Homo sapiens: one gene and its partners. The protein of the gene in region 3 interacts with the protein of the main gene of each other region in a biochemical or structural test. Each region holds a gene or a part of one and is shown on either strand. Other genes may lie near its edges. The genes, in order: EGLN3, F12, EPAS1 and UBE3B.

The links.
Region 1: the proteins of EPAS1 (region 3) and EGLN3 form a complex in vitro, tested with the Homo sapiens proteins (one study listed by BioGRID).
Region 2: the proteins of EPAS1 (region 3) and F12 form a complex in vitro, tested with the Homo sapiens proteins (one study listed by BioGRID).
Region 4: the proteins of EPAS1 (region 3) and UBE3B form a complex in vitro, tested with the Homo sapiens proteins (one study listed by BioGRID).

What each region holds. Positions count from the first base shown.
Region 1 is NC_000014.9:33,948,068-33,956,084, forward strand, and holds the start of EGLN3 (prolyl hydroxylase EGLN3), read right to left. Parts: upstream 3,008-8,017; 5' UTR 2,686-3,007; coding exon 2,329-2,685; intron 1-2,328. UniProt on the Homo sapiens protein: Prolyl hydroxylase that mediates hydroxylation of proline residues in target proteins, such as PKM, TELO2, ATF4 and HIF1A. Target proteins are preferentially recognized via a LXXLAP motif.
Region 2 is NC_000005.10:177,406,539-177,413,432, forward strand, and holds the start of F12 (coagulation factor XII preproprotein), read right to left. Parts: upstream 3,027-6,894; 5' UTR 2,990-3,026; coding exon 2,933-2,989; intron 2,566-2,932; coding exon 2,508-2,565; intron 1-2,507. UniProt on the Homo sapiens protein: Factor XII is a serum glycoprotein that participates in the initiation of blood coagulation, fibrinolysis, and the generation of bradykinin and angiotensin.
Region 3 is NC_000002.12:46,384,391-46,387,217, forward strand, and holds the end of EPAS1 (endothelial PAS domain-containing protein 1), read left to right. Parts: intron 1-118; coding exon 119-270; 3' UTR 271-2,307; downstream 2,308-2,827.
Region 4 is NC_000012.12:109,515,601-109,522,636, reverse strand, and holds part of UBE3B (ubiquitin-protein ligase E3B), read right to left. Parts: intron 5,873-7,036; coding exon 5,753-5,872; intron 1,490-5,752; coding exon 1,313-1,489; intron 1,197-1,312; coding exon 1,086-1,196; intron 1-1,085. UniProt on the Homo sapiens protein: E3 ubiquitin-protein ligase which accepts ubiquitin from an E2 ubiquitin-conjugating enzyme in the form of a thioester and then directly transfers the ubiquitin to targeted substrates.

The DNA of each region.
Region 1 (8,017 bases), on a different chromosome or scaffold from region 3:
TTTTTCTTGAAAACACGGGTGAAGGATGAACCGGTAAACTGGGTCTCTATCACTGCTCTGGAAAGCAGCACAAAATGAGGAGCTCAGCTGAGGGATAAAAAGTGAGTGAAGAAAAAGAAGGATAAATTAATGTGAAACCAATAAAAATCATGTAGAAATGGAAAGTGTTTCTACCATGACTTTAATAATGAACTTCAAACAAGAAACCCAAGACCACAAGACATCACTAAGGAGACTTCTGTATACAAGCAAAGCACACTTAAAAAAAATTTAACTACACTAGTTGTTTGCTCAAGCCTGGTTTGCATTTGGTTCTAATTGGCCAGGGAATATTCCAATCGAAAGGTGATTTATCTAAAGGGCAGGGAGCTTTGTGACAAACCAGCCAAAGTAAACCTGGAAATCTGGGGGTGGGACAGGATAAATTTTATTTTCAATTCACGATCACCTTCTGACAGGGTCACCTGGAAAGTTTTTCATTCCACCCAAAAGATAACCTAAAATTGATGAATCATATCTACAGGATCTTTCTTTCCCTTACCCTAACTTACACAGTGTTTTTCCTTCCATTTGAGTTAAATTCTAGTCTGAAACCCTATCCCTATCCATTAAGTCAAAGCTAAATAAAAATATTTAACTTTCAATGTTAGTGGCCTCTTTCCATACCAATTAATCCTGACCTCCCTCAGAGCAAATTCTGCTCCTAGAATGATGAAGAAAAACTCCTAACACCTAAATTTACAAGAAACATTTAAAAACCCAATAAGAAGCCGTCTGCTCTTCCAGGTAGAAACTACCAGCATCTCAGCAACACTGAGGCTGACCCTTCCCCTCCCCGACACACCTCCACCACAGAAGACAGCAAGGTCATTTAATGCAAAAATCAAACTAGTCAAAGACGAGTGACTAATCCACCACCAACATGATGGAAGAAGAATAAAGAAACACTTTAGCATCAATCTCCTACAGAGTTCAGCTCACGCGGAATTTTTTTCCCCAAAGTAAAATTTAGAAAGCAGTATCTTCTAAGATTTACTTTACTTGGGTGCATTAATAACGATGCTTTCAGATATTCTATTCATGGCCTCTTGGCTTGGAAGTTGTACGGCAAACTGTGACTCCCCACTGCACTCATCCACCTCCACCCCTTCACTCCCACACGTTTCCAATCCTCACCACTTAGCCTTTATTCAGAGTGTTCCTCTCAGCGTATTAGAGAAATGAGAGAACAATGGTCTGTTCTGAGACAGGATCAGTCTTGAGACTGATTTGAGAAATACTATATTTATTGTCAAAGAGTGGTACATAGGTGAGTGTTCATCTTCCCTCTCATGCCGGTATACTCTGCTTCGCTGTTTCAGTAAAAGTTTTCCGTAGTTCTGAACGTCCCTTGACCACACCATAAGACAAGCGCAAGTCACTCAGAATTGCCACTGGAAAACTGGCTCAACTATCATTTGAGGAAAGACTGAGAAAGCCTATCCCAAAGTAATGGACATGCACCAACATCGCGGTACCTACATGTTCCCGTTTTTCTGCCAATCTACCTGTGTTTCCAAGATAAATTACCACCCAGGGAGTCACTTCCTGCTATGTGAACAAAAACCCGGTTTCTTTCTGGAGGTGCTTGACTACTCTCTCGTGAGCACTTAACTGGTTGTTTTGAGTGGACTTTGCCATCAATTCATAGTTAGGAAAAGGAAGGTGGTGGTGCAGGGCTCAGCATCAGGAGAGAATTTTCAGTCAAGAAGATGGTCTAACAATGTGCTGGGTCCCAGGGGGCAGAAGCAGCATTCAGAAGTGGAGTTTTACCCTTTCACACCTGCCCAACTCCACAAACCAACTGCCACATGGCAAAATCACAACTGCCTCCAGAATTCTGAGTGCTTTTGTAGAAATCTCTTCTGACCACAATGAAGGGCAGTATTAGGTGGCTTTAAAGTAGGCATTTAAGATCATGAGGACACGTGTGTCTCAGATGATACACAGTGTTTCCAATACCCTTTCCCTCCTTTGGATCTTTGAGAACCTCGTCTTAAAATCGGACCACAGCCACAGCTTGTCTGGCTTTTGTCACCCACAAGAGCCAATATTTCAAAGTCAACAGAAGGTCATCATCATGGTTCACCTGAGCCCCTTAACGTTGACTTTCGCTCAGAGGAGCTGGGGCGAGGGGTGGGGGGAAGCAGCGAGTAGAGACAAACCAGGCTGACTTCTTGGTTAAAAAACAAAGTTCGCTTACGGCCCTGGGAAGTCGACATACAACGGACTCCGAGTGCCTCCCGTCCCCGCGGGAGCAGCTGCGGCAGGGCGCCGAGCGCGTCCTACCTTAGACCTCTCCTTGACGTAGTATTTGCCCAGCCGGCTCCCGCAGTAGAGGACCAGCCTGTCGATGAGGGACAGGAGGAAGCTGATGGCCTCGCAGCCCTCCTCGTTGCCCCCGATCCACGTGATCTGGTCGCCCCGCAGGTGTCGCTTGGAGACGCCGGCGCGCGGCCCCGCCAGCTGGCCGTCCCGCAGGGCCCCGGTGCAGTGCAGCTGCTTGACGCGCTCCAGGACGCAGTCGCCCACCACCTCGCCCAGGAAGTTGTCCAGGTAGCAGAAGCCCACCTCGTGCAGACAGGGCACGATGTACTCCAGGGCAATTTTCTCCAGGTCCAGCCTCATGATGTGTCCCAGGGGCATCTCGCCCGCAGAATCGAGGTCCGGGATCCCCAGCGTGCAACCAGAGAGGGAACGATCTACACGAGCGCGAAGCCGAGGCGCGGGGAGCGTGGCCCGGGGTTCAGAAACCTGCGGCTGCCACGGTACCCGAGCCGCTGCAGCGTCGGGGACAAGGGAAAGTTTCTCGCAACTCTCGGGAGAAGGGATCTGCCTTCGGGAACCAGCGGGAGTGGTGCGGAGCTCCACGACCCGTTTCCGGACTGGCCCGGCGAGCAGTGCGGCGCAAGGAGTCGGAGGGCGCCTTTTGGGGATGGGAAGCCACCACTGCCGCGACTGCGGCCAGACTCCGGGAGACGCTGAGGTCCGGCCCTTAAGCCGGCCGACTCCGCGCGTCACGGGCTCCGCCCCGGGACCGCCTCCGGGACCGCCCTTTCCCCCGCCCCGCTGCCAGTCACCCCCGCCTGCTCTGCCCCTCCGCGAAGGATCCCAGAGAGCCCGGCGCCAACCTTAGTTGTTTGTGACCAGGGGAGCGGCTGGAAAGCAGACTGAATTTTTAGAATGCGCTGGATTTGCATATTGTTTTGCATAAAATCACATAACAAACTTGAAAACCTGGATCCCACACTGAAAATGTAAATAGAATTAACTGCCACATTCTGGGTTGGTCACCTCATAGACTTTTGAGCAAAATAATAACCCCAAAAACGAATATATTTATTAAGCAGTGGTCTTGTTCTACCTTTACCGGGTGTCTTTCCTTATTTACCCCATTCCTCTGCTGTTTGACCCAGTTCAAGCCACTGAGAGATTAGGAGGTATCTAGTTTTAACTAAAATTAATGCATTAACGAATATTTCCCTCAGCCCCTACTGTGTGCAAGGCACTATGTGCTTGAGGAGCTGGGGATGAGCACAATGAAGAAATGCTGAGTCATATCTGATTGAACTCTGCAAATGGTGTATTTTGCTTTGCTTGATGTTTTCCTCTACTTACCTTTCAAGCTTCCTATTAAAATATGATGTTCCGAAATTCTACCTTCCAAATTAATCACATGCTTCTGTAACAGTCAGAGGTATGTCCCCCAAAAGATACACTGTATTCTAGGTCTCTCACTTTTCCCACAAGCAGCTGTACTTTCACAAGAGGGACAGACACCACTGAGAAGACTTTGGTTATCTACAGATAAGCTGATTTGCTTTATGGAGTTTTGATTCCCTTTCCTACTGAACACCAGCGATCAGAATCAGGAAAAAATTCATAAATTGCATGCAAAGCTATTTGTACTTCTTTAAAAAAAAAAAAAAAGGAACTGTATTTTTTTTATTTATTTATTCTGAGACGGAGTTTTGCTCTTGTTGCCTGGGCTGGAGTGCAGTGGTGTGATCTCTGCTCACCACAACCTCCGCATCCCAGGTTCAAGCAATTCTCCTGCCTCAGGCTCCCAAGTAGCTGGGATTACAGGCGCCCGCCACCATGCCTGGCTAATTTTGTATTTTTAGTAGAGGTGAGGTTTCTCCACATTGGTCAGACTGGTCTCGAACTCCCGACCTCAGGTGATCCGCCCGCCTCGCCCTCCCAAAGTGCTCGGATTACAGGCGTGAGCCACCGTGCCCGGCCTATTTGCACCTTTTTTACTTCATATGAGTGCACACTTGGGTTCTTCATTTAAGTTGAAGAAAAGAATGTACAGGTTTTTCGGGTATTGTTTATTGTGGAAGCAAATTTCTACAGCTTTTTCACTTTTCTTCTTCCTCCAGCAGCCCTCTCCTCTCTGCCTCTGAGGGGAGAAAGGGAATGACATCCAGGACAAGAACAAAGAATAGAAGAGGAAAGGTGCTGCTACAAGTTGGAAAGAAGCAGACAGAGGCACGTGGTTGAGTAAGAACCTGGGGGATGGTGAAGGAGAGCAGTCAATGGTGGAGTGCTTAAGAAACTTTGATGAAACTTCTAGTTATATTGAGAGAGGTTCTCTGCCAAGTCAGTGATTAGTTGGCACCTTTGGTATTACCTTTGAGCAGGAGGTACCCCTCCTTGGGGTAAAGGCCATCACTGCTCAAAGAGCTCTTGTCTAAATTCCCAAGGCAGCTCCATGATGAGAGGAGACCATCATCCTTGGAACCCCAGTGTTTAGCACATAGTGAATGGCTAATAAATAGTTACTGGGAACTCAATGTCTGACCCTGAGCCATAGCAGCCTCCACTTGGGATTCAGTATGTCTGGGCTTATCTGGAAGGATCTATTTGCAAAAGGGGCTGGGGAGCCTCCCCAAAGAGAAGTCACTGGAAAAGAGTCAAGCAAATTAGCCTGACCCAGCACAAAAGCTTAGAGGCCAGTGGAGGGAGAACTTAGGAGTTCTACAGGGCATTTGTCTCTCAGCTTTGTCTATCTGAGCAGTGGACATTTGAGTGGTGGGAGCCAGAGACATAAAGTGAAAACTGGAGGACTGTTAAATTGCAGCAAAGGGCCAGGCACAGTGGCTCACACCTGTAATCCCAGCACTTTGGGAGGCCGAGGTGGGCAGATCACCTGAGGTCAGGAGTTTGAGACCAGCCTGGCCAACGTGGTGAAACCCCGCCTCAACTAAAAATACAAAAATTAGCCACACATGGTGGCAGGCATCTGTAATCCCAGCTACTCGGGAGGCTGAGGCAAGAGAATCACTTGAACCCAGCAGGTGGAGGTTGCAGTGAGCTGAGATTATGCCACTGCACTCTTGCCTGGGTGACAAAAGTGAAATTTAGCCTTAAAAAAAAAAAATTGCAGCAAGGAGTGAAATGGAGTGCAGTACCAAAAAGGAGGAAAGCCCTCCTCTCTACTTCTGCTTGAACCCTGCACAGAAGGAACTGCTTTGCCTCCTGCAGTGATCTCCTCCAGGGGCACTATGGATAATGGGGTGACCAGGAGAAACCTGGTCTAAGACAGCCTGAATGTAGACCCTGGTTGGCATTGGGTCGTGCATTTTGCAGCTTTGGGGACTGTGTAAATCTCAGAAGTAGATATCCCTGAAGAGGGACAGAATCAAAAAGGGGGAAGGTGACAGATAATCCTTAGTAACTAGCTGAAATGTTTCTAGCTGGAGGCTTTTTGTAGATACACCTTATTCCTAGGAACGATAAGGAGGGAATTTACAAAGGAATGGAAACCTGCAATCACTGGTAGAGGGGTGGTGGTCAGTAAAATACAGAAAATTATACAACCACCTTCCAGAATGAACATGTTGACCCAAGACTTCAAATCCCAGGAGTGGGTAAATTTAGTTTACTGTTCAAATAATATTTCAATAATTTCACAGTAAAATTGTAACTCGTTATAACTAGAGCAATAGTCTAAGTGAGTCCTAGTGACAACTGTTCTAGATTATGTTGGTTGTAAAGCATGGGCAGTTTAGAAAGGAATTCAATCCCTTGGCACCATCCCTGCTTGGCAAGGGCACTCATTAATCAATCAAGGACCTCCCGATCAGCTTAGGGCTGCCAGCACTGCATTTGGCAGAGGAATCAGAGATACTGTGACTGGCAAAAATCAGAGTGTGTGATTGCACGGAGGAACACAGACAGGCTGGAGCCAGGCACAGGCTGTGGGTCTGAGCATCAGAGAGGGAAAACCCAAGCTAATTGTTAAAGTGCATTTGCTTTAGTTATTTGTCCACTAATTTGTGTCATAATAATGAATATTAAAATACCTTTCCATAATAACTAAAGCAAATTAATTTCCCTGTAATTTAATTACAGCAACATTGTCTTCCAGTGTGCATCTGCAGTATAGATGCAGTCATTTTCAAGCATGTGGAGGAGTAGGGGAGAAAGAAAAATGTTGAGTTTTCTTACCTTTGAATTTGAACTGGAAGAGATATTAGTGGTCACCTAGTTCAACTTCATTTTCCTACAGATGACGAAACCAAAGAGTCTCAGTTGAGTGGAAGAGGAAGCATGGGATGCTTCTGCCTTCTCAACTGTAACACTGTCCTATTTATATATGTATGCATTTTGACTTTAACGAGGTAAAATTCACAAAACATAAAATTTACGATTTTATAATGAACAATTCAGTGGCATTTACTACATTCGCGATGTTATGAAACCACCACCTCTCTCTAGTTCCAAAACATTTTCACCACCCCAAAAGAAAACTGTGCCTATTAAGCAGTTATTCCCCATTGCCTCCTCTCCCAAGCCCCTAGCAACCATCAATCTGCCTTCTCTATGGATTTGCCCATTCTAGATATTTCCTAATAATGGAATCATATAACCTGTGACCTTTTGTGACTGGCTTCTTTCACTTAGCATGATGTTTTGTACCATTTACCAAGATTTTATTTCTTTTTATGGCTGAATGATAATTCCACTACGTAGATATACCACAATTTGTTTATCCAGTCATCCACTGATGAGTATTTGGGTTGTTTCCACTTTTTGGCTATTATAATAGTGCTGTTATTAACATGCATGCATAAGTATGTTGAGTACCTGTTTTCAATTCTTTGGAGAATAGACCTAGGCATACAGTTTTGGGGGCATATGGTAATTTTATAACTCTTTCTTTTTTTTTTTTTTTTTTTTTGAGATGGAGTTTTGCCCTTGTCGCCTAGGCTACAGTGCAATGGCGCAATCTCGGCTCGCTGCAACCTCGACCTCCCGGATTCAAGCGATTCTCCTGCCTCAGCCTCCCAAGTAACTGGGATTACAGGCACCTACCACCACACCCAGCCAATTGTTTGTTTGTTTGTTTGTTTGTTTTGAGACAGAGTTTCGCTCTTGTCACCCAGGCTAGAGTGCAATGGCACCATCTCGGCTCACCGCAACCTCCGCCTCCTGCGTTCAAGCGATTCTTCTGCCTCAGCCTCCCAAGTAGCTGGGATTACAGGTGCCCGCCACCATGCCCACCTAATTTTTGTATTTTTAGTAGAGATGGGGTTTCACCACGTTGGCTAGACTGGTCTCAAACTCCTGACCTCAAGTGATCCACCCGCCTTGGCCTCTCAAAGTGCTGGGATTACAGGCATGAGCTACTGCGCCCGGCCTATGTTTAACTTTTTGGAAAACCACCAAACTGTTTTCCACAATAGGTGTACCATTTTACATTTCCAACAGAAATATGGGAAGGTTCCATCGTGTCCTTTTTTATTTCTGATGAAAAATGTCTACATGTCTTCTTTTCCATCAAAGTACTGCCATACCTGAGGTTCTCTTCCTCCTAGCTGGTATCTGAATATTTTGTGTGTGTGTTTTTACCATCCTATATCATCAGAAGGTTTATCATTATTTTGCATGACTTCACTGTGAGCAAAGGCAACCTTATTTATTGATCCATTAAACATTTTTGCAACACTTAGTACTGTGCTAAAAGTTTACA
Region 2 (6,894 bases), on a different chromosome or scaffold from region 3:
TCCTGACTCCACAACCTGCTAGCTGTGTGACCTTGGGTAAGTCTTCAGTCCCAAGGCCAGGAAGAGCACTTGCCACAAAGTAGGCACTTAATAATACTTGTTGAATGTTGAAGTCACTGTTAACCACTCTGATCTGAGCCTTGGTTTCCTTATCTGTAAAACGGCAGTAATAATAGTACAGTTGATCCTCATTCTTCTCTGGTTCTACATTGAGAATGTGCCTACTTGCTGAATTTTATTTGTAACTCCCAAGTCAATACTTGAAATGTTTTCATGGCCATTTGTGGGCATGCACAGAGCAGTGAAAAATTTGCACATTCCCAGTTAAGGTTCAACAAGGCGTCACGCTGCTGCTGCTTGTTTCAGCTCTCCTATTGAATGAGTGTCCTTCTCAGTCTACTTAGTGCAACGTTTTTCACACTTTGTGCTTTTGCTGGGGATTTGGCTTTTGGAAATGGCCTCTGAGCCTCCTGCTGAAGAGCTGTGTAGTTCCTAAGCACAAGAAGGCTACCTTAGGGAGAAAGCGTGTGTTAGACACTTGATTCAGGTGTGTGCTATAGTGCCATCAGCTTAGCATTGATGAATCAGCAACACATATACTAAATAAAATGTCTTTAAACAGAATCATACATAAAACCAGATTATATGCTGTTGGTTGATGAAAATGTTGTGACCAGAGGCTCACAGGAACCTAATACTGTTTGCTAGTTCAATGTTCACTGTGATTTTATAGAACATAACCATCGCGAATAATGAGAATTGCCTGTGTCTTCTTCAGAGGAATTGTCGTGGGGCTTCATGAGATAATGCCATGAAATGCTGAGCAGTGTCTGGCACAAAGTACCTGCTCAATAAGCTTTTGCCACTATTTTGTTCAAGGCAAAGTGCACTTGCCAAGGACCAAACCAGAACTAGGACAGTAAATGGAAATGGATCTGAGATGGACCTTTAAGATGCAAATGGGGGCCAGGCGCGGTGGCTCACGCCTGTAATCCCAGCACTTTGGGAGGCTAAGGTGGGCGGACCACCTGAGGGCAGGAGTTCGAGACCAGCCTGGCCAACATGGTGAAACCCTGTCTCTACTAAAAAATACAAAAATTAGCTGAGCATGAAGTTGTGTGCCTGTAATCCCAGCAACTCGGGAGGCTGAGGCAGAGAATCGCTTGAACCCAGGAGGCGGAGGTTGCAATGAGCCAAGATCGCGCCATTGCACTCTAGCCTAGGGGACAGAGCGAGACTCCATCTCAAAAAAAAAAAAAGATGCAGATGGGATGGACGGACAGAGAGGAGGGGGACCTTAGGCAGGGGATTAGGCAAGGATAGGGCACCAAGTTTGGGTAAGGCAAGAGAGAGGAGAAACTTTTGGGTGTGGGGTGAAGAGAGGAGGCTGAGGGAGTCCAGGGTTGGAATGTGCTGGGCCTCAACGCCATGCTTAGAGACTCAACCCCACCAAGTCAGGCCCACCAGGGTAAGGTCCATCTGGTTCACAGGCCCTGCTATGTGCCACACTCTAGGTAAATTTTTTTTTTTTTTTTGAGACGGAGTCTTGCTGTGTTGCCCAAGCTGGAGTGCAATGGTGTGATCTTCGTTCACTGCAACCTTCACCTCCCAGGTTCAAGCAATTCTTCTGCCTCAGCCTCCCGAGTAGCTGGGACTACTGGCGCATGCCACCATGCCTGGCTAATTTTTGTACTTTTAGTAGAGACAGCATTTCACCATGTTGGCCAGGCTGGTCTCGAACTCCTGACCTCATGATCCACCGACCTTGGCCTCCCAAAGTGCTGGGATTACAGGCATGAGCCACCATGCCTGGCATGTAGGTAATTTAGTGTCTGGAAGAATGAAAGCAATGGGGAGCTATGGCAGAGCTTGAGGAAGGGGGAAATGGCAGGTACCCTTCATCTAAAAGGTAGTTTCATAATAAAAGCTAATATTTGTAAAGCATTTCCATGCACCAGGTGATGGGCTGAATACCTCACATGGGTTTCCCTTCTCAACAACCCTAAGAGGTTTACTGTTATCAACCTGGTTTCACAGAAGGGGAAATTGAAGCTTGGAGAACTCAAATCCCTCGCCCAGAGTCACCCAGCTCATAAGTGATAAAGCTGGGCTTCAGAGGCATTCAGATGCCAGAGACAAGCTCTTGATCCTTCCTTGCCCATTGAAGGCCCTGGCCTCTGTGTGGCATGAATGATGCCCATGAGACGTACTGGGGAAAGGAAAAGAAGGGGAGAAGCTGGGGAAACTGAGGAAGGCTGGCAGGAGCCCAGGTGTGATGGCGCCAGCAGCACATATCTCAAGCACCTGCTCCGAGCCAGGCTCGTGGGCACTTAGACACAGCCCATACCCTGCCCTCAAGGATCACACAGCTCACGATCACTCTAGTGCCCATGGGCATAAGACCTAGCACCAGGTAGGCACTAGACTAGACTGCCCTGAGACTGCACACACTGCACCATACACATCCCCACCCAAGGGTTCCCGGGAGGAGGAGCCAGGCCACTTACCGACTGTGTGCTCTTCAGCTTTGTACTTATGCTCCTTGGGGGCTTCCCAAGGTGGAATCTACAAGGGAGAGAAGAAGGCAGGGAACTGACTATAAGTCATAGCCTGCCACCGATCTGTTGCTAGTCTGCAGCTTCCTCTCACAGCCCAGAAATGCAGAGATTTCTTCCCAAGACCCAAACCCTTTCTACCTCCCCCCGTTGTCTTCTTAAGGCCCATCTCCCCCAGAAATGCAGGCTGTGCCCTTGTATCCACCCAGTCTGGTTGTCTGTCTCCTCTGCCTGGGCCTTCCGGGCTGGCCTCACCTTTCCACATAGGCCTCCTAGTCACCTGGACCCACAGGTCATGAGCAGAGGCCATGGCTCATGGCTGTGATAGCGACCCCCCAGAACAATCCTGGGACAATCCTGGTTCCCACAGCACTCACCGAAAGTGTTGACTCCAAGCTCACCAGCAGGAACCCCAGGAGCAGCAGAGCCCTCATGGCATCCGTCCGTTGGTCCAGCTGCCTATCCAGGAGTCCAGATCAATAGGACTGGCCAAAGGTCTTGGAAATAGAGATTGGTCAAGCTGCCCTCCTGAGCCTGGTGGGGCACAGGCTGTTTGTGGAAAGCCAAGTGGAGCAACTTCCTTGGTCACCCCTTGAGGGCCGGAAAGTTGGGAGTTTGTGGGTGGGGGTGAAATGAAGAGCTGGGCTCCTCCTCTCTTTTCTAGATAGTGGGACTGGAAGCAGAAGAAGGGACATTCTTATGCTCTGGGTCCTGTGGAGATCAGGAGGTTAAGGAGATCAAAGATCATGGGGATCTTGGAGTCCACTGTGAAGTGTGTTCATTTTCTATTGTCATGTAACAAACTACCATAAACTCAGCATCTTACAACAATACCCACTTTTAATTTTCTTTTTTTTTTTTTTTTTTTTGAGACGGAGTCTCGCTCTGTCGCCCAGGCTGGAGTGCAGTGGCGCAATCTCCGCTCACTGCAAGCTCCGCCTCCCGGGTTCACGCCATTCTCCTGCCTCAGCCTCCCGAGTAGCTGGGACTACAGGAGCCCACCACCACGCCCAGCTAATTTTTTGTCTTTTTAGTAGAGACGGGGTTTCACCATGTTAGCCAGGATGGTCTCGATCTCCTGACCTCGTGATCCACCCGCCTCGGCCTCCCAAAGTGCTGGGATTACAGGCCTGAGCCACTGCACCGGGCCATGTGTCGCCTTTTAAGAACTCACCTGACTAGGTCAGGCCCACCAAAGCCATTCTCCTTTTTTTTTTTTTTTTTGAGACAGAGTCTGGCTCTGTCACCCAGGCTGGAGTGCAGTGGCACGATCTTGGCTCACTGCAAGCTACGCCTCCCGGGTTCACGCCATTCTCCTGCCTCAGCCTCCTGGGTAGCTGGGAATACAGGCACCCGCCACCACGCCCAGCTAATTTTTTGTATTTTTAGTAGAGATGGGGTTTCACTGTGTTAGCCAGGATGGTCTCGATCTCCTGACCTCGTGATCTGCCCGCCTTGGCCTCCCAAAGTGCTGGGATTACAGGTATGAGCCACCATGCCTGGCCCTGCCATTCTCCTTATTTTAAGGTCAAACAATTTGGGACTTAAATTACATGTGCAAAATTCTTTCACAGAAGCATCTACATTCATGTTTGACAGAATAACTGGGAGGTGTGCAAACACCAGGGGTAGAGATCTTGGGGCCATCTTAGCATTCTACCAACCACAGGAAGTGAGGCAAGAAAGCAAATGATTTAATGAGAAAAGTGCTAAACCAAGGGGCACTAAGATGTGCAGCTGGAACATGAGAAGAAGACGGGGTGCACATGTGCTGCCCAGCATCTGTCCTGGTTCGGTAATGACACTTTGATTTTTCCTTTAGCAACGACTCCTCTCTTACTTCTTCCATGGGCTCTAGTGCTGCCAACTCTACCCTCAGAGCTAGGGCTAGAGATGTGGCCTAGGTCTGGTCAATCAGAGCATGACATCTCTAATCCACAGTGATTGGTTCAGAGATAAGCATATACACAATTTAGGCCAATTAAAGTGCTAGCTTGGGACTTTTGCCAGAACTTTTGGGAAAGCAAAAAAGTTGCACTGGGGTTACTAAGCACAGAGCATGTGGGTCTGAACACATTGATGATCACCTTTGTCACTCTCTAGGGAGGGCCTGTTTGAGAATGAAGCCTACACATAGGAAAAGCAAAGCAAACAGGGCAGGAAGGATGGAAAGATGCTGTGGTAGACAGCCTCAAAGACAGCCCCCATTGATCCTCACCACCTAGGATTCATGCCCTTGTATGGTGTCTTCCCACATTGAGTTAGGGCTGTTCTGTGTGTCCATCAGAATATGACAGAAGTGGCTGGGTGTGGTGGCTCACACCTGTAATCCCAGCACTTTGGGATGCCAAGGCAGGCAGATCACTCTAGGTCAGGAGTTCAAGACCGGCCTGGCCAACGTGTTGGCCAAACCCCATCTCTATGAAAAATACAAAAATTAGCCGGGCGTAGTGGCGTGTGCCTGTAATCCCAGCTACCCGTGAGGCTGAGGCAGGAGAATCGCTTGAACCCAGGAAGTGGAGGTTGTAGTGAGCAGAGATTGTGCCATTGCACTCCAGCCTGGGCGACAGGGACTGTCTCAAAAAAAAAAAAAATATGGCAGAAGTGAGGGTGTTGGACTTCCAAGCCCAGGTCATAAAAGACATTGCAGTTTCTGCCTCGGTCTCTTAGGTTGCTCACTCTGGAGGAAGCCAGCCACTGTGTTGTGAGGACACACATGCAGCCCTGCAGAGAAGCCCATGTAGGGAGAAAGGAAAGCACCCTGCTGACAGCCAGTGCCAATTGGACAGCCACATGAATAAGCTGCCTTGGAAGTGGATACTGCAGCCCTCGCTGACATTTGGCTTGCAATCTTATGAAAGACCTCAAGGCAAAACTGACCATCAGAAACTGTGATAAATCATCATTAAATGTTGTTGCTTTAAGCCACAAGTTAGGGTGATTTGTTACACGACATTTGAGAACTAGTACTGATGGATTGATTTCTCATGACTTTGAGAGCCTACATCCTAAAACTAGAAGTATCCTTAAGACTTGGTCAGTTATGGCTAGGCACAGTGGCTCACGCCTGTAATCCCAACACTCTGGGAGGCTGGGGATCACTTGAGGATCACTTGAGCCCAGGAGTTCCAGACTGATGTAGGCAACATAGTGAGATCCCATCTCTCCAAAAAAATTTAACATTAGCCAGGCATGGTGGCGCGTGCCTGTAGTTCCGGCTACTTGTGAGTCTGAGGCAGGAGGATTGCTTGAGCCCAGAGGTCCAAAATGCTGTGAGCCGTGATTGTGCCACTGCACTCCAGTCTGGGAAGCAGACTGAGACTGTATCTCCAAAAAAAAAAAAAAATAGACTTCTCAGTTATATGAGCCAATAAAACCAATTTGAGTGGACTTCTGTCACTTTCAGTTATACAAAGTCCTAAGTTATACAAAGTAATTTATGGGAAATGAAGACTGAGTGTAGCAATTTATTAATTCTGCTGGAAGAGAGGCAGGCTGTGGAAGACTTCTTGGAACAGAAACACAGAAAGAGGAGGGCAGGAGAGGAGGGGCACCTTTCCAACCACTGGTTTCAAAGGTAACTGGTTTCAAAGTCATTGACGTGACAGCTGTTAACTCCATGATGAAAGTGAAACTATTAGATATATTGACGAGTCATTAAAGCGAAACTACCTTTGTCACCTTTTTTGTTGTTTCAAAGAGACTCGGTCTTATTAAGTTGCCCAGGCTAGCCTGGAACTTCTGGGCGCAAGTGATCCTCTCGCTTCATCCTCCTGAATAGCTGGGATTACAGGTTCATGCCATCATGCCTGGCTCTGTCAGTTCTTGATTGCTCCTGAGTATAGACCCTGGCCCTAAGGCCACTCCCACATTGGCTCCTTCCTCTTGGGGAGAAGGCAGCTGTTCCTCTACATGGAAGGGGCCTTTTGAACAGGTCTTCGCCACAAGTAGGGGTTTGCAGGCAGAGTGAGTAATACAACTGCACAGAAGCCTGAATGCAGCGTGTCAAATGGGGAATGTGGTGAGCATAAGGTGCCTTGTAGGGAGTGTGAGATGAGGTGTCAGGTGGACATTAATGGTCATTTGGATGTTCAACATCCATCTCCCTTCCTCTTCCTCTCCCAGTTTCATTTTGTGATCACCCCTCCCCAGCTGTGGTGGTGAAAGGGTACTTTATTATTATTTTTATTTAGTTATTTATTTGAGATGGAGTCTCGCGCTGTCGCCCAAACTGGACTGCCATGGTGCGATCTCGGCTCACTACAACCTCCACCTCCCAGGTTCAAGTGATTCTCCTGCCTCAGCCTCCCAAGTAGCTGCCATTACAGGCCCACGCCAC
Region 3 (2,827 bases):
TGAAGGAGCAGAGTGAAATTAGGGCTGCTCTATTGGTATCCCCCAGTCACAAAGAAGTAGACACTTTTCCAAATGTTCGATTTAGGCCTTTAAGTTATGGTACCAACCCTTCTTTCAGGCATGGCAAGCCGGCTGCTCGGGCCCTCATTTGAGTCCTACCTGCTGCCCGAACTGACCAGATATGACTGTGAGGTGAACGTGCCCGTGCTGGGAAGCTCCACGCTCCTGCAAGGAGGGGACCTCCTCAGAGCCCTGGACCAGGCCACCTGAGCCAGGCCTTCTACCTGGGCAGCACCTCTGCCGACGCCGTCCCACCAGCTTCACTCTCTCCGTCTGTTTTTGCAACTAGGTATTTCTAACGCCAGCACACTATTTACAAGATGGACTTACCTGGCAGACTTGCCCAGGTCACCAAGCAGTGGCCTTTTTCTGAGATGCTCACTTTATTATCCCTATTTTTAAAGTACACAATTGTTTTACCTGTTCTGAAATGTTCTTAAATTTTGTAGGATTTTTTTCCTCCCCACCTTCAATGACTTCTAATTTATATTATCCATAGGTTTCTCTCCCTCCTTCTCCTTCTCACACACAACTGTCCATACTAACAAGTTTGGTGCATGTCTGTTCTTCTGTAGGGAGAAGCTTTAGCTTCATTTTACTAAAAAGATTCCTCGTTATTGTTGTTGCCAAAGAGAAACAAAAATGATTTTGCTTTCCAAGCTTGGTTTGTGGCGTCTCCCTCGCAGAGCCCTTCTCGTTTCTTTTTTAAACTAATCACCATATTGTAAATTTCAGGGTTTTTTTTTTTTTGTTTAAGCTGACTCTTTGCTCTAATTTTGGAAAAAAAGAAATGTGAAGGGTCAACTCCAACGTATGTGGTTATCTGTGAAAGTTGCACAGCGTGGCTTTTCCTAAACTGGTGTTTTTCCCCCGCATTTGGTGGATTTTTTATTATTATTCAAAAACATAACTGAGTTTTTTAAAAGAGGAGAAAATTTATATCTGGGTTAAGTGTTTATCATATATATGGGTACTTTGTAATATCTAAAAACTTAGAAACGGAAATGGAATCCTGCTCACAAAATCACTTTAAGATCTTTTCGAAGCTGTTAATTTTTCTTAGTGTTGTGGACACTGCAGACTTGTCCAGTGCTCCCACGGCCTGTACGGACACTGTGGAAGGCCTCCCTCTGTCGGCTTTTTGCCATCTGTGATATGCCATAGGTGTGACAATCCGAGCAGTGGAGTCATTCAGCGGGAGCACTGCGCGCTATCCCCTCACATTCTCTATGTACTATGTATGTATGTATTATTATTATTGCTGCCAAGAGGGTCTGATGGCACGTTGTGGGGTCGGGGGGTGGGGCGGGGAAGTGCTCTAACTTTTCTTAAGGTTTTGTTGCTAGCCCTTCAAGTGCACTGAGCTATGTGACTCGGATGGTCTTTCACACGGCACATTTGGACATTTCCAGAACTACCATGAGATGGTTTAGACGGGAATTCATGCAAATGAGGGGTCAAAAATGGTATAGTGACCCCGTCCACGTCCTCCAAGCTCACGACCTTGGAGCCCCGTGGAGCTGGACTGAGGAGGAGGCTGCACAGCGGGAGAGCAGCTGGTCCAGACCAGCCCTGCAGCCCCCACTCAGCCGGCAGCCAGATGGCCCCGCAAGGCCTCCAGGGATGGCCCCTAGCCACAGGCCCTGGCTGAGGTCTCTGGGTCGGTCAGTGACATGTAGGTAGGAAGCACTGAAAATAGTGTTCCCAGAGCACTTTGCAACTCCCTGGGTAAGAGGGACGACACCTCTGGTTTTTCAATACCAATTACATGGAACTTTTCTGTAATGGGTACAATGAAGAAGTTTCTAAAAACACACACAAAGCACATTGGGCCAACTATTTAGTAAGCCCGGATAGACTTATTGCCAAAAACAAAAAATAGCTTTCAAAAGAAATTTAAGTTCTATGAGAAATTCCTTAGTCATGGTGTTGCGTAAATCATATTTTAGCTGCACGGCATTACCCCACACAGGGTGGCAGAACTTGAAGGGTTACTGACGTGTAAATGCTGGTATTTGATTTCCTGTGTGTGTTGCCCTGGCATTAAGGGCATTTTACCCTTGCAGTTTTACTAAAACACTGAAAAATATTCCAAGCTTCATATTAACCCTACCTGTCAACGTAACGATTTCATGAACGTTATTATATTGTCGAATTCCTACTGACAACATTATAACTGTATGGGAGCTTAACTTTATAAGGAAATGTATTTTGACACTGGTATCTTATTAAAGTATTCTGATCCTACCACTGCTGGTGGCTCTTATTTCCTGTGGATTTATCATGGGCTATGCCAATGTAAAGTGAAGTATTAAGTCGTTCATATAAATTGAACATTAGCACAGACCTTTATGAGACTACTGAAGTGAGCTGATAAGACTGGTGAAGGAAAGACTGTGTTAAATACTTGGTAGTTGCCTAAGTCTGAAAATTCATATTGTATCTTCCATATTTCTGCAAGTATTTTTCTATCTATCTATCTATGTGCCTCGGGGCCATTTTTTGTATCCTATGGGGAACCCAAGGAAAGAAGTCATGGTCTCTGCTTTCAGAAAATTACATGAAGTCGTTTGAGAGCCACACTGTTCTGTATATTCACATAGTGCACTTTGGGATGGAGGTCCCGAAGGGAAAGGGGCAGCCTGGGCATTAGGACTTCAATTTGGAGGCGGCTGGGCTGGAGTAGGGTCTTCCCAGGTAGACTGTGATTGGGAAGAGCAGAGATCCCCTCGGCCAGAGACAGAGCACAGTGAAAGCCCAGAACTGG
Region 4 (7,036 bases), on a different chromosome or scaffold from region 3:
TCCCTCTCAGCTTGGCCCAGCTGCTGGCTCTTTCTGTTTGGAAAGCATCTGGCTTCTCCAGGTTCCTGGGGTATGCGAGGAGTGCTGCCCAGGTGGCTCGCTTCCTCCGTGCTTGGGCCAGAAGCTCAGCAGAGCCTGAGACCCAGGCAGGGTCCCTGCAGCTCTGGAGCCCACTGCGAAGGCCACACAGACTGGCTGGGCTTGTGCTGCAGCTTTCCTTCCTCCTGGGAAACAGGACTCTCCCAAGGAACAGGCGGTGACTTCCCACTGAAGGTGGTCCCACCTTGGCTTTCAATGGACGGGGTTTCAATGGACAGGAGCTGTGTGGGCCACATCACCCTGACCCCATCAGGCCACAGAGTGGAAACCCAGACTCACTTCCTCTTAGTAAGGTGAGGATGACTGCTCCGATCCACCTGGTGTGAGCAGCTGGCTGGGCACCGTAGAAGGCCCTCCTCACTTACCATTAACGGCAACCCAGGAATGTGGCTTTTCTTATCTCCACTTTACTGATGCGAGAACACGGCTTAAAAACTAAAGAAACTTGAAGGCACATGGTCACACGGCTGACTAGGAACAGCTGGTCCTGTCCTGTTGCCATGGCTGGGAAGCACTCACTCAAACAACACAAGATTTTAAAACTATCAAACTCCACAAAATGCTGCCCTCCTACAACGGGGACCCAGCCTCCGTGTGGCCATCTGGCTCTGCACACCACTCCTCATGCCTCAGGAAAGAAGAGGGCTGGCCTTAGGACTTGGGCCGGCCTGGGTTCAAATTCCACCTCTACCACTTAACTAGCAACGAAACTCTGGACAGGTGACTCCTCAAAGCTTCAGGTCTCCCATCCTTAAATAGCCAGGACAGTGGCAGCCCCGTCACAGGGCTGTCGATGGGATGAGATGAGATGCCACAGGCAAAGTACCTAGCACTGGTGTACAACAAACCTTGGTTCCTGCCCCTGTCCTCGCTTGTATCCTAGTGACAGTTTACATGGCCAAGCCTGATCACATATGTGTATGTGAAGAAGCCCATGGTACCGTTAACATTTTATTTTACATTTCTCTGTTTCTTAACGTTCCTACCTCATACACAGCCTTCCCCAGCATCTTCCCCACAAACTCGAAGAGCTGCAGGTAATTCTCATGGATGTAGGATGTGGGTGAGGGGTACAGCCTCTCATCCCCACTGGTTGTCTGCAAGGCAAAAAGACGGGGAGAGGCAGAGGTCAAGTGCCTTGCAAGGAGCAAGCCCAGCTCTTCACTTCTTGAATCTGGCTGCTGTCAGCCCTGCTGTTGCTCCCCTTAAATACCTTGAACAGATTGAGTGCTGGGTCAAAAACTCTCTTGATGATCTCTTCCAAGAACTCCTTAAAAACACCGTCTTGATCAATCCCTGCTTCGTCCACCCCGAGGTCATTGACAAACTTCACACGGATGACCCCCTTCATGGCGTGCTGGGAGAGCTGCCTAAGCTGCTCGTAGCCGTCCTGCCAAGAGCAGAATTACAGCCCATTAGGAAGCCCAAAGCCTTATGCACACAATTCGGGGTTCCCTCTCCTCTGTGCGAAGCTCTCCCAGCATCATTACCAAATGTGCAAATTATGAAACGTGGATGCATGACAGGAGCCGTTCTCACCTGCTTTTGAATGAGTGCTGATTAAAAGCAAAGATTCATTTGGGGATGTGACAGTATCACTCCTTGGCAAGGGGAGACTGACCTCAAGGGGACAGAGCAGTGAGATGGGGAAGTTAGACAAAATGAGTCATGACAAGCTCCTGGCCATCAGACAAAGGATGAAAGAAACCGGGACAAGATACATTTCTCTCTCTCTCAATGCTAAGAGTATCTTTAGCTCATGGTAAAAAAAAGAAAAAAGAAAAAAAAAAAAAATCAAACCTACAGAACACTGTAAAATGAAAAGAATTACCCATCACCCCTCATCTCCCGCTGCCTTCCCAATCATGAAGTGCCTGCAAGTCATGCTGAGGAATTTAGGGGACATCCTGAAGGTAATGGGAGCTGCAGAAGGTTTTAGGCAAAGAGTAACAGGGCTGACTTTCTGTCAGATCTTTCTATTGGCAGCAGAGCAGGTGGATGGCAGGGATCAACGCAGGGAGCAGAGACCGAGATGTGGGGGTGGTGCTGGGCCTGGACTTCTGGCTGGTGGTCAGCTCTGTTAGGACACAGCCATTCAGCACATCTACTCCATCCAGACCTCAACATGCACAGCCCCAGAACCACAACTTTGGAGTTCTCCTACTAAATCATCTGTTTAGTTTGTCTCTTGATTCTAATCTGTTGAGGCCTTCCTGGCTTCTGGTTCCATCATCTAATGCATTCCTAGTACTTGGGGTGCTGAGGTTTTTATTTCAGAGCAGTGACTATAAAAACAGTGCTGAACAGCACAGGGCCCAGGGAAGAGTCTGTTGGCCCGACTTGAGAGGCCCAATCACCAGGTGAAACTGATGTCTTCAGACACTGTGATGGAACAAGTGACCAATCAACCCTGCTGTCCTATGAAGGCCATGCCACATTTCTCCCTTTCAGCTACAACTGTAACACTGTCACATGCTTCGCAGGTTAGACAGGCTGTCTCCACAGCATCCACTCGGCTGCCGTCTGGTCCCCTCATCACAAAGCAAACGAGCAGTATGCCAGTGTGGCGAGACCTGTTTTGGGGAACCCTTGCTGCCTTCCTGCCATGTTCACCCAGTGATCCCCAAAGGACTATCCTATGGTGCCCCGATTCAGGGGTTAGGCTTCAAAGTTAGTGGGCAAGGGAAAATTACCTCTCAAGACCCCTAAGTCACATGTGGGAACAGGAGCACAGTTTTGTGGAGGCAAACCTGAGAAGGACTTTTTATGTACATAAAGTTTGAGAATCATTAAGTTAGATGACAAAAGGGAGAAACAGGAAGTCAACAGGCAGCTGTAACAGCATTTAAACCATTCTGCCTAAATTTAAGATAATTATCTTGGCACTGAGATGAGAACGGATGGAGAATTCCATCAAGTTCCTGTCTGCCTGCAGGAGTTCCTCCAACCTGCTTTAAAATTATGCCTCCCCAGCCTTCACACGCATTAGTAGATGCGTTTGTGGTTATGTGGATGAAATGGGATGGTACATGTGAAAGCAAGTGGCACATGGCCTAGCTCAAGGAGCGTTTACTGGATTCAAATCTCAGTCTTGCTTGATCAGCTCCACACCAGCCTCTTTGTTTAAACGTTTAGAGGGGACTGCCTCTTGTGATACATTTCCTGCCTTCTGGGAACTGGCGTGGATATGCGAGGATTATATCCATGCCTCTTGGGAGGTGAATGTGAGTCAGCGTTCCTCTTCTTCACTGCATCTCAACATGCACACACAGGGAATACTGAGCTAGAAAAGGGATGCCTGGCTTCCAGGCCCAGCTCTATCACTGATATCCAAGTGACCTTGACTGAAGTTCTCTGGCCTCAGTTCTGCCTTTGACAGAGACAGGGGAAAGGACTGGGTAAGAGTATGTTTGAGGATCCTTCCGGTTCTGAATACTAGAGTTCCAGCCCAAACTCACCCTCTGGGAAGAAGAGCCTTCCTACAGGACTTTAATATCTGGAAGCCTAATAGAGAAGCATAGCCCTCAATACTAACCATAAAAAAGGAAACAATGCCCAGGAGAGCATGAGTCTGAGATCAGCTTACTGACGCCCCCTTGTGTCCAAATCCAGCAAAGGCCCCTGGGCTCTCATATTCTAATAACCAAGCCACCAGATTACGACAACTGGGATAACAATGAACAACCCTCTCCCCTTCTCCAGTGGAAAGTAAAGAGGAAAAGGGACTTTGCCTAAAGCCTAAGACAGACATCTCTTTTGCCATCCCTGAGGGATATGCTTTAAAAAGTAGGGCCAGAGTAACTGGGATGTCAAGTGAATTTCCAATAAGCAATGATATTTGTGAAGGGAGTCGGATTCTGCCACTCTCAGGAGATACTGCAATCTATACCACCCCAGACTCTTCCCATGGGTGGGTGCTGGCCACGTCTGGGTAGGCGTGATGGGTAGTGGGGCTGAGGATTTCTAGAGACAAGGGAGATGCATCTGGGTCTGCAGAGGGAAGTGCTAGAAAGGGAGTCCCTACCACACAATTGGGCTTTTTCTGAATCAAAAGCAGAGGTTGCAAATGGGTGGCCCACAGGTTGAATTTGGTGGAAAGACAGGTGTTATCTGACTTTCTAGGCACTTTACAGAGTTCAATTAGTTCACAACATGGAAGATCTGAATTTTGGCCTTCTCTTAAAAACTCAAGAGCGTTATGGAGCCCACCTCGTCACATGGCAGGTCTGGAGGAGCTGAGTGGCGGTGGCCTCTTCTGGGGAGGCACGTGCTTCCAACTGCTCCCCAACACTGAGGCTGGGTGTCAGTTGCCATTTATCAACTCACTCGTGGGGGCTATTTTTCTCAAGTAGAGCTACACAGACCAAGAGGGCTGTTTCAAGAACAGGAGGGCGCAGAAGTGGAGATTATTTCTATATGTCTAGCACGCAAACAGAATGCTCCTGTAATGAGACCCACTCAGCCAGCTTTACTCCTTCACATGGCCTGCAGGGCCCAGTGGGCCCTTCAATTCCTTATGCCTACCTTGAAGAATGTCAGAAACATCCACTGTTCAGCACACACTGCCTTCCTAGCAGCTCTCGGCATTGATCACCAGTGGCCAGGGGCACTCAAACAAGCTCTCCAGTAAGGAGTGACACAAACAAGGTACGATGCACCGAGGGAGAAAATGAAGACACGTGAGGAGGAACAGCTGCTGCCAGAAGCCATCTGCTGGTGGGGGTGGCTATCTGGCCACATACTTCAGGGGATCCCGTGACTGTCCTACACTACAGGACAGGCTCATGGGGAACTGCAGCTGGAGTGTGATAAAAAGGTCTGAAGTGCAAACATGGCAAATAAATGAAGCCAAGCCTCTCCAGGGAATGGGGACTGTGGCTCAGTCACCAATTCTATCGCTGGCAGGATGAGCATGTATGGGTAGGCTGTGCACTATACAAGCCCAGGGGAGGCTGTGGCATGGATAACACAGACATCGTAGGTAGTTAAGTTTATGACAACCATGTTCCAGCAGATTGGAGGCACGGTCTTGTACCAACAAAACCAATGTATTGTGACAATTTTCTGACATATGAGGACTGGGTACCTATCTCTAATTTACATGGAGTCACCGTATAGTGGTAGTTCCAGACAACGGATTTAGCTCAGGTGGGTCACTTCAGTGGTATCTTGTAAGTTTCTGTCTACAAAGAACTTCTGGCTCTGTGATAAAAGTATTTCTCTACATAACTCAGTAAATGTAACACCTCCACTCCACTTATATACTACAATCACAGTTGAGAGTCTCAGCAAAGTGCCTGCTGGGACAAATGGAGTTTGCACAGACCTGAGAGTGTTAGTGCAGCCGCTGTGACTGGCAGCTCCTGTCCTCATTTCAAAGGGACATGAAGAGGTGGATGCTCTAGCCCAGGATACTCTAGCTCTCATGGGGTAAAGGAAGACACTGCTGGGTCTCCAGCAATGAGAACATGTTTAACCAAGCAGCTGTTCAGAGCAGTCAACAGGACAAATGACCCCTTTCCTGCTCCCAGAGCCTTAATTTCAGATCAAGGAGTAACAGGAACAGTTCAAAAGCCAGAGACCGTCCACTAAAGAGCTTCCATGTTGCAGGGCCCACTTCCTTGTGGTAGGATTCCATAGGCTTCACACTCACCTCCAGCATCCTGGACCGGCGGATGGTGATGTGAGTGACATGCGGGGAGGCAGAGCTGGTTTCCACCAGCCCCAGTTTCTCCTTCTCCTTGGTAACCATGGTTCGAAACAGTAGAACTCTCTAAAATGAACAAAGGCGGGATCAGAAAACAGGGTCAGCAAACTGACGATTCCATAAAAACACTCTGCAAAAATGACTGAAACTGAAGTTAGATGAGATGCAAGCAGAATGGGATGCCTTAACATGTGCTACCAGTTAGAAGTGTCCTGTGAGAACAGAAGCATTCCCTGGAACACTTGTGGGAATTAGAAATACTGTTGAATACACAAGCAAAAAACGTTCCGGAAAGAGTGGTCTGGCTGCAGCTAGGGTCCAGCTAGGAATGGCCCACGAGAAAATCCTCCTCAAGGCTGGGCGTGGGGGCTCACGCCTGTAATCCCAGCACTCTGGGAGGCCCAGGTGGGCGGATTACCTGAGGTCGGGAGTTCAAAACCAGCCTGGCCAACATGGTGAAACCTCGTCTCTACTAAATACAAAATACAAAAATTAGCTGGGTGTGGTGGCATGCACCTGTAATCCTAGCTACTTGGGAGGTTGAGGCAGGAGAATCACTTGAACCCAGGAGGCAGAGGTTACAGTGAGCCAAGATCGTGCCACTGCACTCCAGCCTGGGGGACAGAGTGAGACTCTGTCTCAAAAAAAAAAAAAAAAAAAAAAGAAAAAAAAGAAAAAAGAAAATCCTCCTCATTCAGTCAATAATCCACTATAAAAACTTGGTGGCAGAACAAGTTACAGAGCCTTCTTTATCTAGCTGTGCCTGCTTTAAGGGAAATCAATATTATGAATCCTAAGAACAAAAATAATTCAAAGATAACTTTTCCTACTGTCAGAAAATTTAAAAATGACCCTACAGTATAAAGCTCCCTGACCTTTCAACCTGCCTCCTCTGTGCCTTCAAGCCCACCACAGTCCCACCAGTAATATTTCTCAATTACTGCTTGAAAGGAACCCTCTCTCCTTATTCTTAAGATTCTGCTAAACCTATTTAGAAAGAGCATGACTCTTTGCCCCATCCTGGGCTCAAGAATCAGCACCCTAATACCATTTAAATCAAGTCAGCTGAATGAATACATAAATCTAACCACAGCTGTTTTTTTAAAAATGGGAATCTCCCCCAAAGTCAAGAACTTTATTAAATACAAATAAGAACAGTAACAGCTGGGCACAGTGGCTCACGCCTGTAATCCCAGCACTTTGAGAGGCCGAGGCAGGTGGATCACCTGA